Regions from separate parts of the Homo sapiens genome. Here all the other regions are linked to region 1. Evidence: fine-mapped expression QTL. A gene starts in region 1. Each other region holds a variant in brackets. All regions are shown on one strand. Distances are between the middles of the regions.

Region 1 (10,705 bases):
TGGTGGTTGTACAATGCTGTGAATGTACTAGATATCACTAAATTGTATACTTTAAAATGGTTAATTGTATGTTATGTGAATTTCACCTCAATTTAAAAAATAGAGACCTATAAATAGGTTGATGTTTTCAAAGCAAATAGCTTCTATCACTGATGAAATGGCTCTTCACTTAGTCCTTGCTTGTATTCAGGTTACAAAGGACAGGCCCTGCAACAATAACAAAACTGATTCTATGATCCTACTTTCAACCTGCTTGGCATTTTCAGAAATGGTCAGGCGACAGGGAGTGGTGGCAATCGTAAGCAAAGGACCTTTCCCAACTACATATTGTCCTTACAATCTTGACTTCCTAAAGTTGACAGCTGAGAACTCTCAACTGTTTTACTGAATCAAGACTTCTGTGGTTCTTTCCAGCCTCCACTGGGTGTAATCCATTGAGTAAATGCAGATAAATGGAGGCCCTGGAGTGAGGTGGTTGAAGTCCCAGAGTTCAAGCCTACCCTTTGGCTTCCTTCTTTTCTGCTGGCTTCTAGCTAGAGACAGACACACTTACCTGTGGAGAAAGTTTGAACATAGGTGCACAGACGATGAGTGGGGTGGAATGGTGTTTTGCTGCCAGTGCCAGAGTGTGAGTTCCTGTCACAGCTCTCAGGGCCCCATTGGCCAGGATGGTCTTCGTGCCAATGATCACCTTTGGGACAAGACAAAAAATGTGAGCCATCCTGGGGGTGGAGCCCTAAAAGGGCCACTGGCCACAAAAAGCTAAATGCTTAGACCTCAGAATTGGTATCGTGAGGGGTCACAGACTGGTAGAGGTGAAGGGATCCCTGGCTCAATACAAGTTCTAGCTTAAAAGTAGGTTTCCAAGGAAAGAATGAATGTAAAATGGGACAAGAAACTGCAAAACCTACTGCTCTCAGTCCCATATTTTCTGGAAATTGAGATGCCATACCTTCTGAGAAGCCAGGAATCTTTTTCATTCACTATCCACAACTGCCAAGCTCTTTGAGCATAAGGCAGGAGCCCTGTAGCCAATCCCTAGAAACTGACACTCTTGCCTTAGTTCTATTTAATACTTCATTCTTTTCAATGCTTCAACCAAATTTAGAGGCTACTCCAAGAGAGGAACAATGATGCAGAAAAAAGGGAAAAGAAATTCAGTTAACAGATTAAAAAGGCCTAAGTATGTACTTTGAAAGGTGCTAGAAACTTTATTCTCTCACCGTGGATATTACAGGAGGAGATAAAAATCAATATTTTAGAAACATAATCTTCATGAATTCAACATAACTCCAGATATACCCACCTTGTTGACTCTTGACATAACGGCAAAAATGGCAGCATCAGTCATGACAGTTGTCTCAATACCTGCTTTGGACAAATTCACAGCCATTTCATGACCCTGCAATGGGAGGGAAAGGCTGATTCTAAGAGAAAGAGTGAGAAATAGTGAAAAGTGCTCTCAAATGTAACTGGATCTGGGGAATTGTGTGATATGGGCATATCCAGCACATAATTTCCAATAGATAACTCATTTTTCGGACAACTGATTTTTCAGACTCTCATAGCTCTGGTAAGCTGTAGGGAAGCCCAGGGGAAGCTAATAAATGTCTAATGCTCCACAGCAGCACCAGAGCAGCCATAAAACTGGAAATACAACATGCATGTATAATATAATCACGATTGCTGACAAGATAGCTCCTGGCTCATTATTTTAAAACAACCTGCATCCTTACATATTTCCTTTTTGAGACCTATTATTTACTTAGGATCAAGTGAGGTCAGACCAAGCATTAGTCATCCCCAAGGTAATTTACCCTGCTTTGATTCCTAAAAGAATCAAGTTATCTTTCCTTGAACCCAGCAGCTCGCCATCTTTTTTTTTTTTTTTGAGACAGAGTCTTGCTCTGTCGTCCAGGCTGGAGTGCAGTGGCGCTATCTTGGCTCATTGCAACCTCTGCCTTCCAGGTTCAAGCAATTCTCCTGCCTCACCCTCCAGAGTAGCTGGGATTACAGGCATGTGCCACCACGCCCAGCTAATTTTTGTATTTTTAGTGGAGACGGGGTTTTGTCATGTTGGCCAGGCTGCTCTCGAACTCCTGACCTCAGGTAATCCACCCGCCCAGCCTCCCAAAGTGCTGGGATTACAGGCATGAGCCATCGCTCCCGGCCCCAACTTTCTTAAACCACTATTTATGAATGTTCACAGGACGAACACCTTGAAAATTCACTTAATGTTTTACTTGATCTTCTCAGTGTCTCAAAGTCTTGCTTATCAATTCAAGGTTGGAATGGCCCTACCCATCTCTCGTTTATTTCTTCTTCATTTTTCATTTTTCTTAGTAGCAACTCCAGCAGTCTCCTTACCTGGCAGAAAGGAGCACACTCTGCTACAATGACATGGAATTTCCTCTTTCGGGCAGCCTCTTTGAGGAAGGCCTCTACTGTTCGGGAGAAGCCAATGGTCATGATCACCTCATTGGAGTGAATGTGCTCCAGAGCCTGGGCTGCAATGTTCTCCATTGTCCCTTCTGTAAGAACGGTTTTGCAAAAAAAAAAAAAAAAAAAAAAAAAAAAATATATATATATATATATATATATGAAATTGCTATATCACAAACACACATTACGCGTATACGGAAAAAGATGTCTGCCCTTCACATGCACTGCCCACCTAGCAGACCCTGGTACCACAGGGTTAATGTGCTTAAAGTGAAATGTCACAATTTCTTTTTTTTTAATAGAGACAGGGTCCCACTATGTTGCCCAGGCTGGTTTTGAACTCCTGGTCTCAAGCAATCCACTCACCTTGGCCTCCCAAAGTTGTGGGATTACAGGTGTGAGCCACCATGCCCAGCTATGTCACAATTTCTTAAAAGCCCCACTCCTCTGGGATTTTCTGCCTGCCCTCTTCCAGAAGTACCCCTACCTATGAACCACCTCTGTCACTACAGAGCTCCTTACAACTGATTTTGAAGACAGTAGATTCAGCCAAGGAATGGCAATCTGGGAAATCCTAAAGTGCTGAGAATAGGGTAAAGAGAGCTTCGGCCTAAAAGAAGTCTTCCTCCAAAAGGTGGCCACAACACTTCTACATGAGAGAGACTGGCCAGAGAAGAAAAAATGGGGGAGCAATTTGGAAGCAGCTTCTTCATCCTCTGATTACAATGAATATCTGCAAGTCACTTGGACCGCAATGACAAGGGGGATAGAAATGGTATACGTGTACGTGTGTATAAAAATTCAGATAGTGAAGGAGGTCTATCGACCTTGGCTCTCTAGGGAGTTCATTTTGTTTCTTTACAATGAAAATAAAACTCTGTCCTAATAGAGTCTGTTCCACTCCACAGATCTGTAGTCTATCAAGGGTTGGTCTGTAAGGAAAAGTAGAGAGGATTACTTTGGTCCTGTCACCTGTTGCAACATTTCCTAATCAGGAAGGAGGACAAACCTCTGAGAACCAGAAGACAGCTAATCTCCCATCTCTGCTAATGAACAACCTTCAGAGGCTTCTGTTCCCTTATGTGCCTGTGACCAGTCCCATTTTCCCAGCGATCAGGCCTCTTACCCAGCTCCACTAGCAGCTCATTAATCGCCTCAATGATGTTGGACTGGAGTTGGGCATAATGGAAGCTGAAATCCTCGTTTAGGCCTCCGGATGTCAACAGTTTGTGCAGGGACTCCTGCTGATCACTCTCGTCGCTGCGTCCATGGAGTCTATAGAGGCAACAAGACCCAAAGAGAGAGGTGGGGAGGAGTGGTCAGGCAGGTAACAAGGGCTGTTCAGCTCCAATAAAGTCTCCGAGCAGGTAGAGGGGCCCGTGCAAAAAGTGTCACTGGATCCAACCAGGAGCCCAGGACGTGAGCCTGACCTGCCATACTCCTCCCGGATAATCTTGAGCACTCTCCGCACCATGTTGCCCACGGTGGTCTCGGAGGGCTGAGCGGCCGTCATCCTCCTGCCCTCTCTGCGGATCAGCTCCATCAGCTCCCCTACAGTCCAAAAGAGAGAGGATAAGAGGAGCCAACGCGAAGTGAGGCCTGGGAAATTTTCAGCCCTGGGATCGGGAACAGACAGGGGCCAGGTTCGCCGGCGGAGGCAGGCCGGCCTCACCCGCGTTGCTCCAGCGGTGGTCCGTGATGATCTGGCGCAGCAACCCTAGGGTCTCCCGAGCCATTTCCTCGGAGCTGCGCGGCCCACCACCCCGCTTCAGGGTCTCCACGAAGCTCTCGATCCTCTCTGACAACTCCGAGCCCTTCGCTGCGGATCCCGGCATCTTTAAGGTAGCTGCCTTCAGCCTTCACCGGCGGAATCCACACCTGCCAGACCACACAGTTTGCACTTCCGGGGCGGGCGAGGTCGGCTTCCGCTGTGAGGGGATGGGGGGAAACCTCAAGTTTGAGTGGAAGCCGGCTACGCCCTTCGTTGCCGATCTCCCGCCCCCTTCCTCTGCCTGAGCCAATCAGAGACGTGGGGCTCGGGTTGTTCAGTTATAACCGGGCGTCCGCGCGCCCCCGCGCCTCGGGGGCTGGAGGATCGGAAGCGGCCTTTCTTGGCTCAGCCGACGGTGAACGGAAGTAACCCGTCAGGCCTGTAGAGGGTGGCTGGTCCCGTTGCTATGGGAGCAGCAAGTCTCTACGCGCCCCTCACCGCGACTTAAGGCTACACTGAAGAAGTTGCGGCACTCCCTCCTGTCTTCCCAGCTCGGTGACTGCCCGAGCTGTCACTCCCGAGTGTCAGCTGACACTGACGCTCTGAATGCATGTCCAGGGTCGGCTGCCCCTTGGGCAGACGTCTCACTTTTGTTCTGTTACATTGCTTGGTACCGTTTGCGCCTGTGTCTAGGAGGTTCATGTCTCTGAAAACAAGGACGATATCTTTTGTTGCTTTTGTATTCTCAAGGCCTAACACGTCTAACAGAAGACGGCGAAATTAGAGATGAGGAAGATTAAGGAGATTCAAAGTGGGAGCCAATACAGAAGCAAAGATGACATCCTCTGATTTGGACAGAATTGTCCTCCTACAGAGAGGCCAGAGAGTATAACATAATACCAAGAGTTACCATTTACTTAAAGCTTACTGGTTCTTGGGCACTGTGTGTGAATTGTCTCAGTTAATAAGGTCTGAAATAGGTCCTCTTATCCCCATTTTACAGATTGGGAAACAGACCCACAGAATTTAAGCAGTTAATAAAGGATTGGGTTCATACTTAAATCCAGGTCTACCTGAACCCAAAGTATGTGTGTAATAGAAATCTCTATTTCCTTAAGATAAATTCTTCAAAGTGGAATCCATAGGCGAGCACATTTTAGACTTTTGTTACAATTAACAAATTGCCCTCCAAAAAGATTATGTCAATACCAAAGTTAGCCAAAGGTAGTACAAAGAAAAGAAAATTACAGATTAATATCTCTCATGAACATAGAAGCAAAAATTGCAACAAATTATTAGCACATCAAATCCTGCAATACATAAAAAAAGAATAATATGTAATTACAAAGTGAAACATAAACCTGGAATGCAAAGCTGATTAAACACTTAAAAATCAATGTAATATGCCATATTAACAATCTGAGAAGTAAAACCACATGATCATGTCAATTGATGCAGGAAGAAACATTTGACAAAATTCAATATTCATGGTACAAACTCTCAGAAAACTAGAACAAAAGGGAACTTCCTGAACTCGATAAAGGGTATCTACAAAATCCTACACCTAAAAATCATACTTCACAGTAAAAGATTGCTTTCTCCCTAAGATCAGGACAAGGCAAGGATGTCTACTTTCACCACTCCTATTTAAATTATACGTGAAGTCCTAGCCCTTGCAATAAGGCAAGAAAAAGAAAAAGCATACAGAATGGAAAGAAACTGTCCCTGTTCACAGAAGACATGATAGTGTACACAGAAAATCCCAGAGTCAACAGCAACAAAAACAAAACCTCCTAGAACATAAGTTTAGCAAGGATACAAAAACTATATTTCTATGTATTAGCAATGAGCATCAGAAATTGAAGTTGAAAATACAGTTGCTCTAAAAAGCCATAAAATATGTGTCAATTTTGCTGTGTTTTAGTTTTTATTTATTGATTTGTTTGTTTATTTTGAGACAGGGTCTCACACTGTTGCCCAGGCTGGAGTGCAGTGGCATGCTCACTGCTCACTGCAGCCTCAACCTCCCCTGGCTCAAATAATCCTCCCACCTCAGCCTTTTGAGTAGCTGGGACTACAGGCACACACCACCATGCCTGGCTAATTGTGTGTTAATTTTTAAATGTCTTTAAAATTGTATCAATTTACATGCTGGCTAGCATTTACCATATTATAGCCAATTTTGGATATTGTCGTTATTTTTTCATATATCAAGTCATTAAGAAAATAAGGTATATAGGCCAGGCATAGTGGCTCATGCCTGTAATCCCAGCACTTGGGGAGGCCAAGGTGGGCAGATCACCTGAAAGTCAGGAGTTTGGGACCAGCCTGGCCAACGTGGGTAAACCCTGTCTCTACTGAAAATACAAAAATTAGTGGGGGGTGGTGGCATATGTCTGTAGTCCCAGCTACTAGGGAGGCTGAGGCAGGAGAATAGCTTGAACCTGGGAGGTGGAGGTTGCAGTGAGCTGAGATTGTGTCACTGCACTCCAGCCTGGGTGACAGAGCAAGACTGTGTCTCAAAAACAAACAACAACAACAGCAACAAAAAAAACAAGGTATATAGTATTTTATATATACTAAAGAATTTATATGTGTGTGTATGCAAGTTATAAAGCATGACGACAAACAGGTTGAGGAATGTGAACCAATCCCTCACTTTGAAACTAAAATATTCGAATTAATAGAGATAGAAAGCAAAGCTGTGTTGGCCAGGCACAGTAGCTCACACCCGAATCCCAGCACTTTGGGAGGACAAGGTGGGAGGATGGCTTGAGCCCAAGAGTTGAAACCAGCCCTGGCAACATATCAAGACCCCCAGCTGTACAAAAAATTTAAAAATTAGCTAGGTGTGGTAATGCATGTCTGTAGTCCCAACTACTTGGGAGGCTGAGGGGGGAGGATCTCTTGAGCCTGGGAGGTCGAGGCTGCAGTGAGCTATGTATGATCCTGCAGTGAGCTATGATCCTGCCACTGCACCCCAGCTTGGGCAGCAGGGCAAGACCCTGTCTCAAAAAAGATAAAGGAAAGAAAGAAAGTAGAACTGTGATTGCCAGGGTCTGAGGGGAGGGAGAGAGTTGCTGTTTAATGGCTACAGAGTTTTAGTTTTGCAAGTTGAGAAGAGTTCTAGAGATAGATGGTGGATAATGGTTGTGCATTTATTTATTTATTTATTTATTTATTTTTTGAGACAGGGTCTCACTCTGTCACCCAGGCTGGAGTGCAGTGGCACGATCTCAGCTCACTGCAAGCTCCGCCTCCCAGGTTCACGCCATTCTCCTGCCTCAGCCTCCCCAGTAGCTGGGACTACAGGTGCCTGCCACCACGCCCGGCTAATTTTTTTGTATTTTTAGTAGAGACGGGGTTTCACCATGTTAGCCAGGATGGTCTCTATCTGACCTCGTGATCCGCCTGCCTCGGCCTCCCAAAGTGCTGGGATTACAGGCGTGAGCCACTGCACCCGGCCTGGTTGTGCATTTATATTTCACAACAATGTGAATGTACTTCATGCCAGTTTAGTTTCACTAAACTGTACACTTAAAAAGGTTAAGATGGTAAAATTTATGTTCCGTGTTATTTTACAATTTAGGAAATATGTGGTATATTTCACTTTTTTCTGCTCAATATGACATTCATAAAATTTATCCATGTTGTTACATGTACTTGTTATTCTCTTATTTGCACTGGTGAATTTGTACTGGTAAGAACTTGTAGTTCTCTTATTTGCACTAATATTTCATGTGACTGTAGCATAATTTATGTATTCATTTTTTTCAACAGATATTTGGGTTGTTTCCAATCTTTTTAGGGGGGTGGGTGAACATAAACTATAAATAGTCCTGTGTATGTCTTGGCACTTATATAAGTGGAACAGCTAGATCAGAGGCTATACGAATGTTCAACTTTACAAATAGATCTAGTAGTACAAAGTGGTTCAATTAATGTATGCTCCCTCCAGCAATATTTAAAGACTTTCAGCTGACCTACATCCTTACTGACATGTGTTATTACCAAACATCTTATTATTTGGGAATCAGGTAGGTATAAAAGTATATTTTACTGTGGTCTTAATTTGCATTTTCCTGATTACTGTTCATATTTTCATGTGTTTGTTGGCCATGAGTTTTTTGTGAATTGTTTGTTGTGCCTTTTACCTACTGTTTTTGGCTTAAAAATTTTTCCAAGTAGATTTGTAAGAGTTCTTTTTATATTCTAGATACTAATCTTCTTTCAATTATTTATTATATAAATAAGTGTCTTCTCCCAATTATGGCTTGTCTTCTTTACTTTGAGATGTCTTTGAACAGAATTCTTGATTTTAATGTGTTAAAATGTATCAACCTTGTCTTTTTTACATAATGCCTTTTCTGTCTTATTTCAGAAATTCAGCCAAGTGCAGTGGATTTGCCAGGTGTTGGGATTACATACCTATAATCCCAACAATTTGGGAGGCCAAGGTAGGAGGATCACTTGAAGCGAGGAGTTCTAGACAAGTCTGGGAAAAATAGCATGATGCCATCTCTACAAGAAATTTTTTAAATTAGCCAAGTACAGTGGCAGCTACTATGTGCCTGTAGTGCCAGCTACTTGGGAGGCAGAGGTGAGAGGTTTGCTTGAGCCTAGGAGTTTGAATTTGCAGTGAGCTGTGATAGCACCACTGCAATCCAGCCTAAGCAACAGAGTGAGACTTCAACTCAAAAAAATAAAAAAATTTAAAAATCCATCCAGGTGCAGTGGCTCACGCCTGTAATCCCAATACTTTGGGAGGCCAAGGTGGGAAGATCACTTGAGCTCCAAAGCTTGAGACCAACCTGGGTAACAGAGCAAGACCTTGTCTCTACAAAAAAAAATTTTTTTTTAATTAGCCAGGAATGGTGGCTCACACCTCTGGTCCCAGCTACTTGGGATGCTGAAGTGGGAGGATCTCTTGAGCCTGGGAAGTCAAGGCTGAAGTGAGCCGTGATCATACTACTGCTCTCCAGCCTGAGTGGCAGAGTGAGTCCTTGTCTGAAAACAAACAAACAAACAAACAAAAAAACAGAAGACATTCTTCCCTAATCCACAATTATAAATATAATCTCCTATATTTTCTTCTGATTACTAAAACATTTATCTTTACATATAATTGGAATTGGAATTACATATAATTTGGAATTGCTTTTTATGTAAGGTGAGAGGTGTGAATCCAATTTTATTTTTCCATTCTTTCTCCAGTGATTTTTAATGTCACCACTGTCATATGTCAAGTTTCTATAATATGTGAGTCTGTTTGGTGGCTATTTGGTTTCATTGCTGAATTTGCCTATTTCTGAATCAATATGATATTATCTTAACAATTGTCTTTTTTTTTTTTTTTTTTAAGATAGGGCCTCACTCTATTGCCCAGGCTGGAGTGCAGTGGCGCCATCACAGCTCACTGAAGCCTTGACCTCCCAGGCTCAGGTGATTGATCCTCCCACCTCAGCCTCCCCAGTAATTGGGATTTACAGACACAAGCCTTTTGTATTTTTTGTAGAGATTAGGTTTTGCCAGGTTGCCCAGGCTGGTCTTGAACTTCTGGGATCAAGCTATCCACCCCCCTTGGCCTCCCAAAATGCTGGGATTATAGGCATGAGCCACTGCACCCAGCAACTATTGTTTTATTGAAAAGTTTTTATCTCTGGTAAGAAATTTTTTCTTGCTTAATTCTTTTCTTTAAAAATTACTTAACTAGTTTTGAGCCTTTGCATTTTTATTTTATATTTTATTTTATTATTATTATTGTATTTATTTATTTATTTTTTGAGACAGAGTCTTGATCTGTCGCCAGGCTGGAGTGCAGTGGCGTGATCTTGGCTCACTGCAGCCTCCGACTCCCTGGTTCAAGCAATTCTCCTGCCTCAGCCTCCCGAGTAGCTGGGATTACAGGCATGTGCCACCGCACCCAGCTAATTTTTGTATTTTTAGTAGAGATGGGGTTTCACCATGTTGGCCAGGATGGTCTTCATCTCCTGACCTCATGATCTGCCCTCCTTGGCCTCCCAAAGTGCTGGGATTACAGGTGTGAGCCACTGCACCTGGCCTATTTTTTATTATTATTATTTTTTGAGATGGAGTCTCACTCTCTTGCCCAGGCTGGAGTGCAATGGCAAAATCGCAGTATGATCCATCCACTCCAGCCTCCCAAAGTGCTGGAATTACAGGCGTGAGCCACCATGCCTGGCCAATATTTTATTTTATTTTCTAGTGACAGGGTCTCATTCTGTTGCTCAAGCTGGAATGCAATGGTGCAATCTTGGCTCACTACAGCCTTGACCTCCTGGGCTCAAGCAATCCTCCTGCCTCAGCCTCCCATGTAGCTGGGACTCTAGGTGTGTGCCACCATGCCCAGCGAATTTTTTTATTTTTTGTAGAGACAAGGTTTCACTATGTTTCTGGGCTGGTCTTGAACTCCTGGCCTCAAGTGATCCTGTCTCAGCCTCCCAAAATACTTGGATTACAGGCATGGGCTAGTGGCTCAGCCACTTCCATATATATTTTAGAAACAGCATTGCTGAAACGTATTTAAATTAA
Region 2 (10,705 bases), 200 kb before region 1:
TATTTTAATGTGTACTAGAAAAAAATTTATAGGTAGCATACCAGACCCGATTTCATGAATCAGCAACTTCAAGAATATGATTGTTTACAGCAAGGCTAGCATAGGTAGTGACTATGCCAGCGAAAATATGTTAATTAATGAAAAGTATAAAATAAATAGCAGATGGATAACATGAAGATTTGGCAAAAATCATGAGGATGGTATTCAAACAACTGAAGTTTGGCAAACCCTTTCCTAGTTATTCATTCTTATGAGTCCCCTCACTATAGGAATGGGGAGAAGCCAGTTGGCACCGTAAGTCCTATTCGCCCACCTGTACCACACTCCCACTCCCAAAGATCACCATTCCTTTTAAACTCCAGCAATTACTGAAAAGTCAATACTGTTCTTCAGTGTCCTAGAGAAAACTCCCAGAACCTGAGGTTTATCACATGCCAAGGCTGAATGAGCCCATCAGCAGGACCAAAGGGTGGAGTTGGGAGGAGAAACTGCAAAATGAGCCTGGCTCCAGGAACAGCATGTATTCAGTACAGAGCCATAAGTTCAGAAATACCAGACTTGGGTGTGTTTGTTATGGAGACTTACTATAGTGAAAGGAAAAGCTGACAAAGTCATCTCTCGAGTCCCTGTCAAAAGCCACAAGCCCCAGACACACTAACAAAATAAGGCGACGGTTAGGAGCCAACATACCTCTCTGTCCTTGTTTTCATTCCAAAGACCTCAGAAGAGATCTTGCAGATATATGACTCTAAATGTAATGAGTACAAATTGCAAGTACTCAAAAGCTAAGCTTTGATAATGCTTAACTGCAAGAGCAAAGAGATAAGATGAGACACTGGACTAGAGGACATTTAGAAAAAACGGTCTAATAGATCAATGGTTTCCAAATGCCCATCTACACAGACCAGTGTCTTCTATGGAGGATGGCTGTGTGTTTTAAAATTGTAGATTCCCAGTCACTTCCCAGAGAGGATTCTGGTGTAGGCTGGAGATGAACTCCTGGGGTCCCAACTGCCCCAGATGGCTCAATCGAGTTTACAAACTACTTTTTGAGCCCTTGTGCCTCATATCTGGTTACTTCGTTCCATTCTCCGCCAGCCCAGCCTGGTTCATTCCTTCCACAATGGTTGACATCTAATAGCTTTCTAACACATCTCCTGCCTCTCTCTGTCTCTGTCTCTCTCTCTCTCTTTCTTTCTTTTTTTTTTTTAGACGGAGTTTTGCTCTTGTCACCCAGACTGGAGTGCAATGACGTGGTCTCAGCTCACTGTGACTTCCACCTCCCAGGTTCAAGTGATTCTCCTGTCTCAGCTTCCCAAGTAGCTAGGACTGCAGGCACGTGCTACCAGGCCCAGCTAATTTTTGTATTTTTAGTAGAGACGGGGTTTCACCATGTTGGCCCAGCTGGTTTCGAACTCTTGACCTCAAGTGATCTGCCCCCCTCAGCCTCCCAAAATGCTGGGATTACAGGCATGAGCCACCACGGCTGGCCCTCTCTTTTTTTTTCTTTTTTTTTTTTGGCCGGGCGCGGTGGCTCACACCTGTAATCCCAGCACTTTGGGAGGCCAAGGCGGGCGGATCACGAGATCAGGAGATCGAGATCATCCTGGCTAACATGGTGAAACCCCGTCTCTACTAAAAATATGAAAAAATTAGCCGGGCGTGGTGGCGGGCACCTGTAGTCCCAGCTACTTGGGAGGCTGAGGCAGGAGAATGGTGTGAACCTGGGAGGTGGAGCTTGCAGTGAGCCGAGATCACGCCACTGCACTCCAGCCTGGGTGACAGAGCGAGACTCCGTCTCAAAAAAAAAAAAAAAAACTCCATTTAAAAAAGAAAAAAAAGAAAAACAAAGGAAAAAGAGAAAGCAATGTCCAGTGGCTACTAGAGCAGACATGTCTCGTCTGTCTGGCCAGCATCTGTTCCTTTGGAATTTGTCTCCTTTTCTCTGTTGTGCAGAATTCTGGAGGTCAGCCAATCCCAGGTCCCATGAAGGGGGCACATGACCTAAGCTAAGCCATTCAGACTCACCTGGGCATTTGAATTTTGAACAGAGATTCAGGGATGGGAAGTTTGAAGTTGAATCATGAGTTAATCCCCAGGAGATCCCCTCTTGCCTGGTCAGATTTTCCTTCAATTCTATAAACTCCCCAATATCCTTCCTTCAGATGGCTTTTTTTTTCCTGTTAACTCAGAATTCGTTCTTATCTCCTGAAACTGCAGAGCCCTGATATACTTCTCCATTGTCCATAGCATGAAGCTTACAAAGTTCTCACCCTATATTACAGATTCTCCCCATTCTGTTTATGTCTCACATGACGGCTCTGCCCTAACTAAGCTTTAAGCCCCTATGTGATCTTCTGTGAGCCAGCAATTAGACAGTCTGCATTTTATAAGCAAGGAGGATATATAACTCATGTCTATAAGGCCTTGAGGTCCTGTGCTAGATGGCATGCTATGTTTTGATCAGATTTAATTGAGAACTAGCTCTGATATTTTATTTATGTATTTATTTATTTATTGTAGAGATGCGTAGTCTTGCCATCTTGCCCAGGCTGGTCTTGAACTCCTGGGCTCAAGCAATCCTCCCACTTCAGCCTCCCAAAGTGCTGGGATTATAGGTGTGAGGCCCCATGCCTGGCCCTACATATTCTAAAATAAGAAAAGGTGTTCTGCTATTTAGAAATGACTGCCAAATCATCATTCTTTTCTTGGGTTTGTGCTACTGTCCAACGAGCGCATAGTGAGGGCAGTACTGCTAACACATACCAAAAAAAAAAAAGCAAAAATAAACATAAAAAACAGAAGTACTTTCCAGAGACTAGGATTACAGACAACCTGGATATAAACTAAGTTCTGGAGGTATTTTAAAAAGAGTATTCTAAAGAGTATATTCTAGGCCAGGCACGGTGGATCACACCTGTAATCCCAGCACTTTGGGAGGCCGAGGTGGATGGAACTCCTGAGGTCAGGAGTTTGAGGCCAGCCTGGCCAACATGGTGAAACCCCATCTCTACTAAAAATATATAAACTAGCCAGATGTGGTGGTGCATGCCTGTAATTCCAGTTACTTGGGAGGCTGAGGTGAGACAATCACTTAAACCTGGGAGGCAGAGGTTGCAGTGAGCCAAGATCACGCCACTGCATTCCAGCCTGGACAACAGAGCAAGACTTCGTCTCAAAAAAAAAATAAATAAATAACTTTAAAAAGAGCATATCCTATTCCTTTGGTTGGAAATTAGATTTGGAAGTTTAAGATAGAGGGCCCAAACAAACTAGCCCACTGACTCTTAATGAGGCCAAATCCCTCTGGGTTGTTGTATCCTGGGAATTTAAATCAAGTGGAATATATGTATACATTCTGCAAAAGGAAAGGAGTGCAAATTCGTAACAACACAAATAAAATTAAGAAACAAGGTTGTTTCCAGATAGATGGCAAGGCTATTAGTGGATTTTCTTTCCCTTCCTTATCTGCCCTGCTCGCTCGGCCAATGTTATTAGCTCCAGTCACCAATTAGCCATTGCTATCTGGGGCCGCATTCACCAGAGTTTTTTTATTCCCTGATAATGGAGAGAGGTAATGAGTGAGGTAATTTCTCCTTCAAGAATGATGCAATGAGCAAGACTGTGTTGGAGTCCAATAAACTCGGGTTTATATCCTGCTCTGGCACTTGTTGGTAGATTAACTTCGGGCAAGTTATTTCCTCTCTCTAAGTCTCAGTTTTTTTAATCTATAGAATGAGGACAATAATGCTGGCCCCATCCTCAAGATTCTGATTCCTTTGGTCCATGGTGGCTTGAATCCTTGGAATTTTGTTTACAGTGCCCAATGTGTTGTTGTGAAGATTAAATGTATAAAAAACTCTAGAATAGTGCCTGGCACTGAGTCGAGGCTCAATCATTATTCCTTTCCCTTCTCCTTTGGTGCCCTCTTCTCTGGCACCATCTGTCCATTTCTACCCCAGACCTCTGATCACATTATCTGCAGGTATACCTATATGTCTGTGTACATGAAAACACATAATTTAATACATAAGCATGCTATGTCCATTTCCACTTATTTGTTCAACAACTAGTTATTAAGAATTCATCCGTGCCAGGCACTGTGACAAACCAGTTAGACAAGTTCCCTGTTCTCATGGAACTTGCTTCCTAGTGGGGAGTATTGTAGGTGATAATGATAGGGAGGGACAGGAAGGGAAAGGAGTGCCACGTGGACTAGGCAGGTGAGGGAAAGCTCTCTGAAGAGGGGACCTCTGAGACCTGTAGGATGAGGAGGAGCCAGCCATGAACTAGGCTGGGGAAGAGCACCAACCACAGGGCACAGCAAGTGCAAAGGCTCTAGGGCAGGACCAGCTTGGTGAGTGTGAGGAACAGGAAGGTGCTAGTGGTGGCCGGGTGCGGTGACTCACATCTATAATCCCAGCACTTTGGGAAGCCAAGGCAGGTGGATCACCTGAGGTCAGGAGTTCAAGACCAGCCTGGCCAACATGGTGAAACCCCATCTCACTAAAAAATATAAAAATCTGCCGGGTGCAGTGGCTCACACCTGTAATCCCAGCACTTTGGGAGGCAGAGGTGGGTGGATCACGAGGTCAGGAGTTCGAGACCAGCCTGGCCAATGTGGTGAAACCCCATCTCTACTAAAAATACAAAAATTAGCCAGATGTGGTGATGCGTGCCTGTAGTCCCAGCTACTTGGGAGGTTGAGGCAGGAGAATGGCGTGAACCGGGAAGGCAGAGCTTACAGTGAGCGGAGATCGCACCACTGCACTCCAGCCTGGGCAACAGAGCGAGACTGTGTCTCAAAAACAAAACAAAACAAACAAACAAACAAAAAAACATTAGCCAGGTGTGGTGGCAGGCGCCTGTAATCCCAGCTACTCGGGAGGCTGAAGCAGGAGGATTGCTTGA[A/G]CCTGGGAGGTGGAGGTTGCAGTGAGCCGAGATCGTGCCACTGCACTGCAGGCTGAACGACAAGAACAAAACCCCGAATCAACAACAACAACAAAAAAGGAAGATTCTAGTGGTGTCAGGGCTGAGAGGAAGGTAGGGGAAGAGCCAGATCCCAGAGCGTCCTACTGCCCCTGGTGAGGAGTTGGGATTGAAATGGGACATACTGGAGATACTGAAGTGGGAAAGGGATGGGATCTGATTTATGTTTTGTTTTGTTTTGTTTTGTTTGAGTTGGAGTCTCGCTCTGTCACCCAGGCTGGAATGCAGTGGCACGATCTTGGCTTACTGCAACCTCTGCGTCCCAGGTTCAAGCGATTCTCCCATCTCAGCCTCCTGAGTAGCTGGGACCACATGTGTAATTTTTGTATTTTTAGTAGAGATGGGGTTTCATCATGTTGGCCAGGCTGGTCTCAAACTCCTGGGCTCAAGTGATCTGCCCGACTCAGCCTCCCAAAGTGCTGGGATTACAGGCATGAGCCACCATGCCCAGCCGGTTTATGTTTAAAGGCCTCATTCTGGTTGCTGTGTTTCAAAGGGTAAATGGCAAGGGGCCAGGATGGAAGCAAGTTCAAGTGATTACAACACATACTTCATACCAGACATGCAGACACTTGGAGATAGAAGGAGCTCTGGTCCAGAGACATGGGAATGCCTTGGGAACACTGGTCCTCATCCACCTCTGCACAATGCAGGCACCTAGGGCACTGTTAACAAAATTCCAGCCACTGTGAACCAATGGAATCAGAATCTTGTAGATGGGGACCAGGCTAACAGTATCTTTACAAAACTCTTGGGATATTTTATGGGCGTCCAGGTGGAAAACCATAGTATCTGGGTAAATTCTTCAGGGCCCAAGCTCTGGCTGCTGCCTCAGACACCTTTCCAGCATGAAACATTTGTTACTACAACATCCTTTCCTAGAATGGGCTGAAATCGGCCTCTGGGGTACCTTCCCTGCACACACACTCCTGTGGGGCCAGCCTTTCCTTCCACCCCTACCATCACCCAAGGCAAACCTTGGCCAAGGGGACTGAGGGAACCCGGACTCAGGGAACATGAATGGGGAAGGGAGGAGCTGCCAGGCTTCTGGGCATGCCGTCTGCCCCGCTGCCTGGCCGTCTGCCAGGCTGGTACCCAGGAAGACTGGCGTGTGCTGCTCAGAGAGTACAGCCTCACAGCAGCAGCCGCCATGTCCCCAGGAGGTGAACTGCTGTCTTCTCCCACCCAGTCTACTCACATTGCCAGAGAATTTTAGAACTTCAGAGACTTTAGCATAAATAGTTTCATTCTAATTTAACCATGGGTTGTCGGGGGAGGGAGCCAGACACTAAATATAGCCAGTCTTGTATTTCTGGGGCACTCCTGGAAGCTTGAGAAGGGGGAAGGGAACTTGGTCGCCTACATTCTGGCAGGCTCTGTGCTATACAATTTACAGTCCTCGCAAAAGAGCTATGAAACAGATGTTGTTATTCTCACTTGGAGATTAGGGAACTGAGGTTCAAAGAGGTAAAGTAACTTGACCAAGGTCACACAGTTAGTCAGTGCTGAGGCCCCATGGAAACCGAGGTTGGCTTCACACCAAAGCTCATGCTCGGTCCATGGATGCATCTGTAGCTGCCCTGTGCTTCCTCTTGGTGTCTTTCCCCAGAATCTTCCTCCAACACCAGGAGTATCAGCATCCCTCTTTTCCGTGTTAGCCCATTGGAGGCCAGGAGGGTCGCTAGCCCAGATCCCGAAACCCTGTGACTCCTTGCTGGCCCATCACTCTGTTTCCTTCTCCTCACACCCACCCATGCCTTCTACCATGGCCAAGCCTCTTCCAGCCCTTTTCTCCTCTTCTCTCCCATTTTTCCTGCAAACCCAGGCCAGAGCACGAAGCAACCCTAAAATACTAAGAAATAGCCAAACATGTAGGTTTAAAGGTTGTCCATTAGCAGGGCGCAGTGGCTGACGCCTATAATTCCAGCATTTTGGGAGGCCGAGGCGGGCGGATCACCTGAGGTCAGGAATTCGAGACCAGTCTGGCCAACATGGTGAAACCCCGTCTCTACTAAAAATACAAAAATTAGCCAGACGTGGTGGTGTGTGCCTGTAGTCCTGACTACTTGGGAGGCTGAGGCAGGAGAATTGCTTGAGCCTGGGAGGCAGAGGTTGCAGTGAGCCAAGATCACGCCACTGCACTCCAGCCTGGGCGACAGGGCAAGACTCCGTCACCACATTAAAAAAAAAAAAAAAAAAAAAAAAAGGTCCATTTAGGTTGCCTGTTTTGATGTAGGAGTGAAGAAGGGAAGCCATCACTCCCCTGTGCCTTGATATGCTGATGACTGCTTTGCCTGCGTTCCTCTGATTTTGTGTGCTGACTCCTCAACACTGAGAAATTTCCCAACTCCCGCAGGCCTACAGAGATATCTCCTTCACAGGCTGTGCCCACAGGATAAGCATTTACCTAGGAAACAGACTTATCCCATAATAATCTCTTGCTGTTGCATATGGGTATATTAAAACTAACCCCCTCCTAGCACTTTGGGAGGCCAAGGTGGGAGGATTGCTTGAGTCCAGGAATTTGAGACCAGCCTGGGCAACACAGTGAGACCTCATTCCTATAAAATTTTTTTTTAATTAAAAAAACACTAACTCCTACCACCACCCACTCCCGCTAAACTAAAGGGTTATGTTTATACCCTTATGTGTATGTGTGTTATGTTCATGTGTGTTCCCCACTTACCCAACACTTCCGTTTTGAATGTGTTCTTGTTGACTAGATGATTGGCTGACCCTGTAGTATATAGGGACCCCTCAATTCATATCTGAAAGGTGGCACCACAGGGACTGTGGAATGTCCTTATCTCAGGTGCTCTGCCAGGCCCTCTAGGGATCTTAGTTAGTCCTCACAACAAACCTAGACAGCATTACTCCCATTTCACAGCTAAGGAAATTCAAGATCAGAAAGGATGTCACTTGCTCCAAGGTAAGACAGGGAGTAGAGAGCAGAAATGGGATTCCAGTCCGCGGTGCTCTGGTCCGCAAGACCCGCGGCATCTGAGACGCCTCATGTGCCTCATCTCTACCAGACTCGAGATGCCCCAAGGTGGAGACCAGGCTTGGGTTCCCCATGGGCCTTAGCACAGAGCCCTACATAGGGCAGTTGTATGGTAAATGTTTGCTCAGTAAATTGTCAGAGGAAGTTTACACTGATTACCAATTGTGTGAGAACCAGCACTGGGGAAAGAGGAAGTGTTTGCACAGTGATAAGGCCTATGTGCCTGATGGTACACCCCATGCCCTGGGCCAGTGGTGAGAGTGGGAGGTGGGCAGCAGAGGGGGGCAGTGCGAGACGCCTGCCCTAACAGGGCTAAGGGAAGAACTGTGGTGCCCAAGAGACCCTGGATATAGTGGAGGATAGGAGGGACATCCTGAGGGTTGACTGATTGCCAGCTCCCCGGCATCAAGACCTTCAGGTTCTTCCACTAGAAGGAGCAACAGAGACACAGGGGAGTGAGAGGGAGGCAGCCTCTCAATGGACACAGGGTCACCTGGGGGCTGTGGGGGAAGCCAGCCAGAGTGGCTGTGTGTGAGGAGAGGACTCTGAATGGGGATGCTGGGCCAGGCGGCATTTGGGTTTGGGAGACCCTGGGAACAGAGGTAGCATTTGAGAGAGCTTCTCAGGAAGGTGGAGGAGGAATGTGGCCTGATTCATCACCTCTGAGAAAAGGACATTTTCTCGGAAGGCCCAGACCAAGAATGCAACAGAAAGGCATAGTTTGAAGGGATCAGATAAAACTTTTTTTTTTTTTTGAGATGGCATCTCGCTCTGTCACCCAGGCTGGAGTGCAGTGGTGTGATCCCAGCTCACTGCAACCTCCACCTCCTGGGTTCAAGCGATTCTCCCACCTCAGCCTCCGCAGTAGCTGGCACCACAGGTGCACACCACCACACTCAGCTAATTTTTGTATTTATAGTAGAGAAGGAGTTTCACCATGTTGCCCAGGCTGGTCTTGAACTCCTGACCTGCCTGCCTCAAGTGATCTGCCTGCCTCGGCCTCCCAAAGTGCTGGGATTATAGGCGCGAGCCACCACGCCCCGCCCAGAAAAGATGGAACTTGATGTAAGGAAGCTATGTGATGGGAGGTTTAGGGAGTTGGTTCAAGGGGATGGTGGGCCTGATGACCACAGGGGGAATGTCTTCGGGGTCAAGTAGAAATGCAGAATAGCCATAAAGTTGGGGCCCAAGCTGATATTTCACGTCCCTGCCTTGCCCTTCACTGGCTATAGGACTTCGAGCAAGTTACTTAACCTGTCTGACCCTCAATTTCCCTATAAATGAAATGGGAGATAATAATATTACATGACTTATACCCTTGTTATAAGGATGAAATGAGATAAAGCTTGACCTGAGTTTGGCGCAGGGCCTGGAAGAAAAAAAGGTCCAAACAACATTAATAATAATTAATGATGGTGGAAAGATCAGCATATGTTCCTGGAAGAGAGGGATCCAGAAATATAGTTAATAATAATATTAATAATAATAGCCACCTATAATAATAATAAATGCCTATAATCCCAGCACTTTGGGAGGCTGAGGTGGGTGGATCATGAGGTCAAGAGTTTGAGACCAGCCTGGCCAATACAGTGAAACCTCATCTCTACGAAAAATAGAAAAATTAGCCAGGTATGGAGGCACACACCTGTAGTCCCAGCTACTTGGGAGGCTGGGGCAGGAGAATGGCTTGAACCCAGGAGGCAGAGTTTGCAGTGAGCCAAGATCACACCACTGCACTCCAGCGTGGGTGACAGAGTGAGACTCTGTCTCAAAAATAATGATAATAATAACAATAGTTTTTTTAAAAATAAGCCATTGCCAGCCTGTTCTGTTTCATGACAGCTTACATTTACTAAGTGTATACCATGTGATAGATACTGTTCTAAGAAGTTGGGAAGAGTGGAAATTATTCCAGCACTGTAATGCCAGCACTTGGGAGGCTGAAGCAGGAGAATCACTTGAGCCCAGGAGTTTGAGACCTGCCTGGCCAACACAGTGAGACCTCGTCTCTACAAAAATCTCTAAAAATTAGCCAGGTATGGTGATGTGCACCTGTAGTCCCAGCTGCTTGGGAGGCTGAGGATCTCTTGAGCCTGGGAAGTCAAGTCTACAGTGAACTATGATCACACCACTGCACTCCAGCCTGCATGACAGAGCGATACCCTGTCTCAAAAAAAAAAAAAAGACATTGTTCTAAGCACTTTACATGCTTTATTTCATTTAATCCTCCCCACAAACTTATGAAGTAGGCACTATAATTATCTTCATTTACATGAGGAAGCAGAGATGCAGAGAGTCCAGGTAACTATCCTGAAGTCACGCAGTTAATGGATAGTAGAGCTTGGATTTGGTTGTGTCTTTGTCCATTTTGTGTTGCCATAACAAAACGCCACAGACTGGATAATTCATAATGAATAGAAATGTATTTGACTTACAATTATGGAGGCTGGGAAGTCCAAGAGCATGGCCCCAGCCTCTAGCAAGGGTCTTCATGCTGCGTCATCTCATGGTGGAAGGCAGAATGGCAAGAGAGGGTGAGAGCAAGAGACACAGAGGGCCAAACTCATTTTTATAACAACCCACTCTCACAATACCAGTCTTACTCCTATGATAATGACATTAATCTACTCATTAGGGCAGAGCTCTCATGGCCCAATCACCTCTTAACAATTCCATCTCTTAACACCGTCATCGTAGTGGCAATTACATTTCAAC
Region 3 (10,705 bases), 23 kb before region 1:
AATGCCAGCACTTTGGGAGGCCGTGGTGGGTGGTTCACCTGAGGTCGGGAGTTCGAGACCAGCCTGACAAGCATGGAAAAACCCCATCTCTACTAAAAATAGAAAATTAGCCGGGCGTGGTGGTGCATGCCTATAATCCCAGCTACTCAGGAGGCTGAGGCAGGAGAATGGCTTGAACCTGGGAGGCGGAGGTTGCATTGAGCCAAGATTGCACCATTGTACTCCAGCCTGGGCAACAAGAGTGAAACTCTGTCTCAAAAAAAAAAAGAAAAAAAGAATAGTGGGAAAGTGCTGAGTACAGAAGAGGGGAGAAGGGCATTCTAGACAGAGGAATACATATCAGAGACTTGAGATACATCCTATGTTTAGGGAACTATCAATAGATATGGCTCAAATTAAGATCTACAGTTGATCCTTGGATAACTTGGGTCTGAACTGCGCAGGTACACTTAAATGCAGATTTTCTTTCACCTCTGCCATTCCTGAGACAGCAAGACCAACCTTTCCTCTTCTTCCTCCTCCTTAGCCTATTCAATGTGAAAATGATGAGGGTGAAGACCTTTATGATGATTCATTTCCACTTAATGAATAATAAATATATTTTCTGTTTCTTATGATTTTCTTAACATTTTCTTTTTCTTTCTTTCTTTCTTTCTTTCTTTTTTTTTTTTTTTTGCGATGCCCAGGCTGGAGTGCAATGGCACAATCTCAGCTCACTGCAACCTCCACCTCCCGGGTTAAAGCGATTCTCCTACCTCAGCCTCCCAAGTAGCTGGGATTACAGGCGCACACCACCATGCCCCGGCTAATTTTTGTATTTTTAGTAGAGATGGGGTCTCACCATGTTGGCCAAGCTGGTATTGAACTCCTGACCTCAAATGATCCACCTGCCTTGGCCTCCCAAAGTGCTGGGATTACAGGCATGAGCCACTACGCCTGGCCAACATTTTCTTTTCTCTAGCTTACTTAATTGTAAGAATACAGTGTGTAATATATACAACACACAAAATATGTGTTAATCAACTGTTTATATTATTGGTAATGCTTCTGATCAACGTTAGGCTATTGGTAGTTAAGATTTGGGGAAATCAGGCCAGGTGCAGTGGCTCACGCCTGTAATCCCAGCATTTTGGGAGGCCAAGGCGGGCGGATCATTTGAGGTCTGGAGTTCAAGACCAGCCTGGCCAACATGATGAGACCCCGTCTCTACTAAAAATTAAAAAATTAGCCAGGCATGATGGTATGTGCCTGTAATCCCAGCTACTTGGGAGGCTGAGGCATGAGAATTGCTTGAACCCGGAAGGTGGAGGTTGCAGTGATCCAAGATCACTGCACTGCACTCCAGCCTGAGTGACACAGTAAGACTCCGTCTCAAAAAAAAAAAAAAAAAAATTGGGGGGAAATCAGAAGTTATACTTGGATCTTTGACTGGATGGGAGTTGGCTAGATGGGTTGTCAAGGTCAAATCATAAAATAATTTAGCATATTCTACTAAGTAGTTTGCATTTTATCCTATAGGCAGCCAGTGAAAACTTTTAAGCAGGAGAGTAAGGTCCATTTTAGATTGCATTCCAAATATGATTACTTTACATATATGTTTTGGTAAAGGTTTGGAAAGCTACTGCTGGGCTGTGGCATTGGAGGTATTAGAGAGAACTATTACTTTTTATTTTGATTACTTATATGTTTCTTTTTTTATAGCAAATATCATTTATTTTGTCTTTATTGTCTTTTTCCTCTCCTTTCCTGTTTTCTATTATAGTTTTCTGTATTTCTCTTTTTTTTTTTGCTCTACTCGTTTAGAAGTTATATATTCCATTTATATCCTTTTAGAGATTAGCCTTAACTTTTAGCATGCATACTTATCAAAGTTTAAAAGTAATTCACTTCTCTATCCTCTTCCTAACTGTACCAAAATCTTACAAACTGTTCATCTCCCATCACCCTCCTCCCATCTTCCATGTTGCTGTCTAGTACTTTAATTCCACCTTGTTTTTAATTCCCTGGTGGTCATTTATTTTATAGTCAATCTTTATTTAGATTAAAAAAAGTGTTCACCAGAGTCTTTGTTCACCATTGCCTCTTGCATCCTACTTATTCTGTGTTCTTTTGGGTTTTTTTTTTTTTTTTTTTTTTTTTTTTTTACTGAAGTAAATCTCTTACAAGATCTTTTATCCACAAACAGATCTTGAGACAAAAAATACAAAAATATAAAAATAAATAGAAGTTATTTTAGTAAGAGTCCGTGGGCCAGGCATGGTGGCTCATGCCTGTAATCCCAGCACTTTGGGAGGCCAAGGCGGGCAGATCACCTGAGGTCAGGAGTTTTGAGACCAGCCTGGCCAACGTGGTGAAACCCTGTCTCTACCAAAAATACAAAAATTAGCTGGGCATGGTGGCAGGTACTTGTAATTCCAGCTACTCGGGAGGCTGAGGCAGGAGAATCACTTGAACCCGGGAGGCGGAAGTTGCAATGAGCTGAGATCACGCCATTGCACCCCAGCCTGGGTGACAAGAGTGAAACTCTGTCTCAAAAAAAAAAAAGTCCGTGAATGATAAGCTGTCTTTTAAAGTATCTTTATTTTGTCTTCATACTTGCATGATTATCTAGCTAAAAACAGAATTTCACATTGCCAGTTATCCCCCCCGCATTTTGAAAATATTTCACTACTTTTGACTTTCTATTTTATTTTATTTTATTTCATTTTTTGAGACAGAGTCTCACTCTGTTACCCAGGCTGGAGTGCAATGGGATGATCTCAGCTCACTGCAACCTCCGCCTCCCAGGTTCAAGCGATTCTCCTGCCTAAGCCTACAAAGTAGCTGGGATTACAGGTGCCCACCACCACACCCAGCTAATTTTTGTATCTTTAGCAGAGATGGGGTTTCACCATGTTGGCCAGGCTGGTCTCAAACTCCTGACCTCAGGTGATCTGCCTGCCGTGGCCTCCCAAAGTGCTGGGATTACAGGTGTGAGCCACTGCACCCAGCCTGACTTTCTGTTTTAGCCATTGAAGTCCTTAGTCAATCCAATTATTACTCTGTAGGTAATCTGATTTTCCCTCTGGTTGCTTTTACGATGGTTCACTTTGTCTTTGGTGTTCTGCAATTTCCCTATGATGTATCTTTGTATGGATTTATTTTCATTTCCTTCTGGAGATTCACTATGCTTCTTCAGTTTGGAAAGTATGCAGTCATTATCACCTCAAACGTTTCTTTCCCATTCTCTCTCTTGTCTCTTGGAAATTTTGTCAGATATCTACTGGGCCTTATCTTTCTACTCTGCATGCCTCTTCAACTCTCTTCCATATTTCCCATTGCTTTCTCTCTGTGATACATTCTGTGAAATCTCCTCACTTATCTTCCAGTGAACTAAAGTATCTCTTCATCTTCTGTTTAATTATGTGTTTAGCTTATCCACTGAGTTTTTTATTTCAGTGACTAAATTTTTTATTTCAATGGCTATATTTTTTATTTCCAGAAGTTGTGTTTTTTTCCCCAAATCTCACTCTTCCTTTTTTATGGTGTCCTGCTTTTTTCATGATTGTTCCTTCTCCTTTATCAGTAGCTTTCTTGATTTGGAGCACAGGCAAATCCACACCCACCTCATCTAGAAGTCTGAAGTGCTTTAGTAATATCTAAAATAGTAAAATCTAAAATTAGAGGATAGATGTAGTAGATAAATTGGGGGATGGATTTATGTGGGAAGATTTGAGTCAGGGAGAGCAGCTGACGGGTTATTGCAGTGGTTAAGGTAAGAGAAGATGAGGATTGGACTGAGTCAGTAGCAGAGGGAGTAGAGAGGAGTGACATATCTGAGACAGAATTTGGGAGGCAGAAGCAAGAGGACTTGGTGAGCAATCAAACGTGAAAGGAATAAAGGAGAAAACAAAAGCAACAGTGATTCTGAGGGTTGTAGCATGGATGGCTGGAAGGATGGTGGTGCCATTGACAGAGAAGGGACACAGATGAGGAGGAACAAACCTGCCTAGGAGTTCCATCGTGAAGGTGGGTTTAGACACAGTGAATGTGCCTGCAGGTGGAATGCCCAGTGGATAGGCACACTTAAAAGATCTGGTACTTGGAAAATAAATCTGGGCTGTACATATCTATCTGAGAGTTAACAGTATATATATATTGATAGTATCAGAAGCTGGAGAAGGGCCTTGAGGAAGTGAGGTTGTCCAGGGAGAATATGGAGAGTGAAAAGGAAGAGACAAAAGAGTGGAGCCTGTGGAACATCAGCATCCAGGGTGCGTATGCTTTGGAAAAGGTCTGGAAAGCTCTGCTGAAAAGAGGAAATTCTAAGGATGGCTGAAAATACTTGGTTAGAGAGGGAGGAGGAAAACCAGGAAAAAGCAATATTGCCAAAACTAAGGAAAGTTTTAAGCAAGGAGGGAATGGTCAATAACGGCTATGAAGTAGAGCCTGAAACGCTGGACTTGACTGTCATGAGGACATTAGTTGTCTTGTGGAATCATTTCCTGGGGATGAGGTGGGGCAGAAGATAAGAGTGCAGTGAGTCAGGAGTGCGTGAAGCAGGAGGAAGTGAAGCTAAGTAGACAACTCTTTCAGGAACTTTGGCTACACACAGAAGAAGAGAGATGGGGTGAGAGCTAAAGGTTAGAAGTGGTTGGGAAGTGTGGGGTGGGATTCAAGGCTGAGGAAAGGTGTTTGTTTGCTTTAAGACAAAAAAGACGTAAGCAGGTTTGCAGGCCAAGGGGGAAACATTCAAGAGGAAGAGCAGCTGTCAGTCAGCTCTTGGGTCATCTTGGCTTTGCCCTTTCCAGAATCGCCTTTGGATCAGACAGATCCAAAGATTTGCTCTGCTTCCAGCAAAGCTCTTTCCTCCCCACAGACATGCTTTCTCTAAGACCCCTGCTCCAAATTGTCCTAAATCCAAAAGATAGGATCTGTTAGAGTCTTTTATTGTAATTCAATCCCTAATATGTAACCAGAAAATTATAAGAAAAACTTTTCCTGAAGGAACTTAAAAGACTACTGTTAAGGAGTTTGCTTCAAATGGAAACAAACCTCTGGTTTCATAAAATCTTGATTATCCTATGTCAGGCTGATCAGGAGAGACTTTGTGTGATTCTGGAAGAAGCTGGAACAGTTTTGGTGTTTTGAGGAGGTAGCTATTTGAATCCTAGCAGTTGAAAGATCATTAATACATCCTTCTATAAAGCTCTATCTTCTAGCCTGGTGAGGAGGTGGAGGCTGCAGTGAGCTGAGATCGCGCCATGGCACTCCAGCCTGGGCAACAACGAGACTACGTCTCAAAAAATTAAAAATAATAAATAAATACGGCCAGGTGCAGTGGCTCACAACTGTAATCCCAGCACTTTGGGAGGCCGAGGCAGGCGGATCATCTGAGGTCGGGAGTTCGAGACCAGCCTGACCAACATGGAGAAACCCTGTCTCTACTAAAGATACAAAATTAGCCAGGCGTGGTGGTGCATGATTGTAATCCCAGCTACTCAGGAGGCTGAGGCAGGAGAATCGCTTGAACCCAGAAGGCAGAGGTTGCGGTGAGCCAAGATCGTGCCATTGCACTCCAGCCTGGGCAACAAGAGTGAAACTCCATCTCAAAATAAGTAACTAACTAACTAAATAAATAAATAAAAAATAAAATAAAAATATTAAATTATCCAGCATTAAACAGACCATTGGAATATAAAATGGACTGAGATGAGACCCATCACCCCTTCACTAAGCTTACAAACAGATGTTTTACCATCCCAGATGTACAAACACAAGAATGTTTGCTCTCCATCCACACTAAGCTTTGTCAGTGGATTGAGTCTTATGAGACCATCTTTCTGTTTAGGTTTGTTTGGGAAAACATGTGATTTTTAAATTATATGTAATATAGTATCTACTACCTAGCTCTTGATAACTGTGCCCATTTATAGGCATGGCAGACTAGAGTATAGATGAAGGAGGGAAGAGAATTTCCTGAGTCTGGTTTTAAAAGAAAAGGTACCATGTTGTAATCTTAGGAGCAGATTTACACATAGCCTTTTCCAGGAGTAAAGAAATGATTTTCTTATAAAGAAATCATTAAATGTGCAACAGGTTTTTTTCTTTTTACCTCCAGAGGTTAAACAAATTGGTAGCATGAAATAGTGTCTGCTTTAAATTTCTTTAAGCTTCTTTTGTAAATATTAATATCCACAGGGATATAACTATTGAAAAGGTTACCCCAGGGACAGAGACATGCAAGGGAGGAGAAATTTCTCAACAAAGGGCCTCAGAAAATAAACTTTCTGACCTGAAGGGAATTGTCCCCAAAAAGCCCGTGGGAACTAAAGTGACTGTTTACTTATGTTTATGATATTTAAGCAAGTGTTATACTGAGCAGTGGTTGTGTTGATGGTTGTTGTGTATTTATTCTCAGTTTGTGTGTAATATTACGCTTGTTCTGGCTAAGATTACACACACAAACAGACAGCCTTTTAGTGAGAAGCCTTCCTGATGTTTTGAATTGGTTGAATCATCAAGGCTACTCTCACCAGCTACATAACCTCATTAGTTGAGAAGCTATCTCTGGAGGAAGTCTCAGTAGCTAAATATATTCTGTGTTCAATAAGAGTTCTATTCAGTTGCTTGGTTTTTTCATATTCAAAGTGCCTTACAACAAATAAATTTGTACCCAAGTGCTGTATTGCTGGAACTCTTTCTTTCAGGAGGCATGATTTAAAGAAGAAAATTGAGATATTTTGTAAACTATCAAAGGGCAAGTAAAACATAACCGTAGATTAAAGCCGATTTTCCTTTTGCTTTGCAGGAATTTATCCGAGAACAACTGGAGGTAAGCTTTTCCTTTATTTTGGGGTTTCACACAGAAGCACCACACATAAAAGGCTTCGTTGTTCC[G/A]TTTTCTTTTCCTGTTAATAACGTGTTTATGCATTAGCTACTCCAGACCACCGGAGGCATCCAAGGGACATTGCCACTGACTGTCCAGAAGGTGTTGGCATCCCAAGCCTGCCATGGTAAGCCCTTCAACATAGCAGTGATCAAACACCTCTGCATGCAGAGCCCTGGCAGGGCTGCCGGGATTACAAAAGAGGCAGAGGGTACATTTACTACTTGACTCTTGGAGAATACAATTTAGATCAAGAAACTGAATATACCCTTTTAAAAATCACTTTTACAAAAACAAAATCCCAACACAAAAATTTGACTATAGTGCTGCCTGACCTATATGAGTGGAGGAATAACTCCTAGAGGAGATGCATTTTGAGATGAATTTTGAATGAGCTGGGGAACATGGGTTCATAGCATGGAAAGGGGAATTCACTATAGGGAGAGTAAACAGCCTGTGCAGAGAGGCAGAACAGAAACAAGTTAGTTATATGAGAAGCAGCAAAGAGTATCAAGAAACTAGGCAGGTAAGAGAACAGAAACCTAGAAGGTCACAGCAAAACCTTTGGATTTGATACAGAAGGCATTAGAATTAGCAAGCGTTCTTTTTTTATCTTTCCAACTTTCATTTTAGGTTCAGGGGGTACATGTGCACTTTGTAACATGGGTGAGTTGCATGTCGCAGGGGTTTGGTGTACAGATTATTTTGTCACCCAGGTAATGAGCATAGTACCCAATAGGTAGTTCTGATCCTCACCCACCTCCCACCCTCCACCCTCAAGTAGGCCCAGGTGTCTGTTACCCCTTCTTTGTTTCTATGTGTATTCAATGTTTGGCTCCCACTTTTAAGTAAGAACATGCAGTATTTGGTTTTCTAATTCACTTAGGATGATGGCCTCTAGCTCTATGTTTTTGCAAAGGATGTGATCTCGTTCTTTTTTATGGCGACATAGTATTCCATGATGTATATGTACCACATTTTCTTTATCCAATCCACCATTGATGAGCATTGAGGTTGATTCCATGTCTTTGCTATTGTAAATAGTGCTGCAGTGAGCATAACACATGCATGTGTCTTTATGGTAGAATGATTTCTGTTTCTTTGGGCATATTCCCAGTAATAGGATTACTGGGTTGAATGGTAGTTTTGCTTTAAGTTCTTTAAGAAATCTCTAAACTGTTTTCCACAGTGGCTGAACTAATTTATATTTCCCACCAGCAGTGTATAAGTGTTCTGTTTTCTTTGCAGCCTCACCAGCATCTGTTATTTTTTAACTTTTTAATACCAGCCATTCTGACTGGTGTGAGATGGTATGTCACTGTGATTTTGATTTGCATTTCTCTAATGATTAGTGACATTGAACATTTTTTATATGCTTGTTGGCCATGTGTATGTCTTCTTTTGAGAAGTGTGTGTTCATGTCCTTTGCCCATTTTTTAATAGGGTTTTTTGGTTTTTGCTTGTTAATTTATTTAAGTTCCTTATAGATTCTGGATATTAGTTCCTTATATAGATTCTGGATATTAGACCTCTGTTGGATGCAGTTTGCAAATATTTTCTCCCATTCTGTAAGTTGTCCGTCTATTCTGTTGATAGTTTCTTTTGCTGTGGAGAAGCTCTTTAGTTTAATTAAGTCTCACTTGTCAATTTTCGTTTTATTGCAGTTGCTTTTAGAGTCTTTACCAGGAAATCTTTGCCAAGGCCTACGTCCAGAATGGTATTTCTGAGGTTTTCTTCTAGGGTTTTTGTAAAAAGATGGAATGCGCCCAGGCGCGGTTGCTTACGCCTGTAATCCCAGCACTTTGGGAGACCAAGGCGGATGGATCACCTGAGGTCAGGAGTTCGAGACCAGCCTGGCCAACATGGTGAAACCCCATCTCTACTAAAAACATAAAAATTAGCCAGGCGTGGTGGCGGGCACCTGTAATCCCAGCTACTCAGGAGGCTGAGGCAGGAGAATCACTTGAAACCAGGAGGTAGAGGTTGCAGTGAGCCAATATCACGCCACTGCACTCCAGCCTGGGTGACAGAGTGAGACTCCATCTCAAAATAATAATAATAATAATAATAATAATGAAGATGGAATGCTTCATGAATTTGCATGTCATCCTTGTGCACGGACCATGCTAATCTTCTCCGTATCACTCCAATTTTATTATATGTGCTGCCAAAGCGAACACCATTGAGGGTTCTTGAGCAGGGTAATATGATACAATATAGAAAATGGGGAGCTGGGTGAGGCCCTGTGAGGAAGGTGCCTGCTTCTCCTTCACCTTCCGCCATAATTGTAAGTTTTCTGAGGCCTCCCCAGCCATGCAGAACTGTGAGTCATTTAAATGGTCTTTCCTTTATAAATGACCGAGTCTTGGTCATTTCTTCATGGCAGTGTGAGAACAGACTCATACTCCTCTATCACCAAATGTCATCATTGCCACCTTCAAAATGTATCTTCGGTCCGTCTGATTCAGTCTGTCTGGCTCCTCCCTCATTTTTGCCACTGTTGAGCTCTCTTACTTAGTTCTTCACATCCACTCTGGCTCCCTTTCAAGCTGCTCTTCTCTCAGCACCCAGAGGAATCTTTTTGAAACATCCCTCCAAGCATGTTGTTCTTCTAACTAAAATGTGTCAATGATGACCCATTGCTCTTGGGATAGAAATGTGATTTTTTACTGTGGCCCACAAGGGTCTTCGTGATTTGGCCCCTGCCTGCCTCTCCAGTGTCACGTCATATCACTCTCCACCTTGTTCTTTACATCCCAGCCTGCTTTTTTGGTCTTCTGCTTCCTGTGTGCTAAACATTTGTCAGCGTCGGGGCCTCTGCACTGGCCTTCTCCTCTACCTGAAACACTTTTCTCTCCTTCTTCAATTAGCCACGTCTTTCTTAACCTAAAGTCTCAGCTTGAATACTACTTTGCCAGGAAAGCCTTCCTTAAGCTCCTAAACTGGGTTTGGTCTTCCTATTATATATTCATATCCTGTATTTTATAGCACCTATATTTATCATTTAAATTATTGTATAATTATCTGCTTCATGTTTGTCTCCCCTATTAGACCATAAGCGCCATGAGGATGGAAATTATCTGTCTCACTAACTGCCTGACAAAGCTCCCAATACAAAGTATATACTTAATAAATATTTGTTGACTGGGTAAATTGTGCATAAAGGCAGGTTATAACAATATGAGAGTTTAGATTAGGAAGATTATTATGGAAATTAGAAAAAAAGAAGCAAATAAAATGAACATTGTAAGGAAACAATCAGAGATTGCTATTGGACGATCCATGGAGAAAGATAACCCCAACTTCACAAACCCATAAAGAGTAGGCAAAAATACTGCTCTTGCCTCTTGGAGAAAAACTCTGAAAGCCAGATCCTAACAAGTTAAGGAATGCCTCCTACAGAGATTAGAAATACAAATACTCCGTAAGAAAAAGCTGAGAGACAGAAGGTCAGTCCTGAAGCCTTAGTTTCATCCATGGTCATAAGCACTAATTTATTTCCCTCTTTTTTTTTTTTTTTTTTTTTTTTTGAGAACGGAGTCTCGCTTTGTTGCCCAGGCTGGAGTGCAGTGGCGTGATCTCGGCTCACTGCAACCCCCGCCTCCTGGGTTCAAGTGATTCTTCTGCCTCAGCCTCCCAAGTAGCTGGGACTATAGGCGCGTGCCACCACACCCGGCTAATTTTTGTATTTTTAGTAGAGGCGGGATTTCACCATATTGGCCAGGCTGGTCTTGAACTCCTGACCTCATGATCTGCCCGCCTCAGCCTCCCAAAGTGCTGGGATTACAGGTGTGAGACACCATGCCCGGCCTATAAGCACCAATTTCAAGCAGGATT

Direction of the effects. Positions count from the first base shown, and alleles are read on the strand shown. Sizes are in standard deviations (SD) of each study's normalised expression. Not every link is listed here.
For the expression in putamen of the gene that starts at base 4,347 in region 1, allele G in region 2 goes with a lower level than allele A (small effect, 0.39 SD a copy in GTEx).

The links. PIP is the estimated chance that this variant, and not a neighbour inherited with it, causes the effect. A credible set is the group of variants that fine-mapping cannot tell apart.
Region 2: its variant is the best candidate, but not a certain one, in a credible set for the expression of EIF2B2 in putamen (GTEx, PIP 0.55).
Region 3: its variant is the best candidate, but not a certain one, in a credible set for the expression of EIF2B2 in whole blood (INTERVAL, PIP 0.88).

The regions. Positions count from the first base shown.
Region 1 is chr14:74,996,563-75,007,267 of GRCh38, reverse strand. It overlaps EIF2B2 (eukaryotic translation initiation factor 2B subunit beta), which reads right to left and starts at 4,347. Exons shown (of 8, transcript NM_014239.4): 1 at 4,115-4,347; 2 at 3,873-3,993; 3 at 3,569-3,717; 4 at 2,368-2,531; 5 at 1,307-1,402; 6 at 554-691. The coding sequence starts at 4,277. RefSeq lists enhancers at 3,989-4,669, 4,711-4,800.
Region 2 is chr14:75,194,161-75,204,865 of GRCh38, reverse strand. It overlaps the pseudogene RNU4ATAC14P. Among named protein-coding and RNA genes, the nearest start is that of TMED10, 23 kb to the right of the region's middle. The variant A/G (reference allele first, on the strand shown) is at 4,912.
Region 3 is chr14:75,019,104-75,029,808 of GRCh38, reverse strand. It overlaps MLH3 (mutL homolog 3), which reads left to right. Exons shown (of 13, transcript NM_001040108.2): 10 at 6,791-6,814; 11 at 6,917-6,995. It also overlaps the pseudogene RNU6-689P. Among named protein-coding and RNA genes, the nearest start is that of EIF2B2, 22 kb to the right of the region's middle. The variant G/A (reference allele first, on the strand shown) is at 6,880.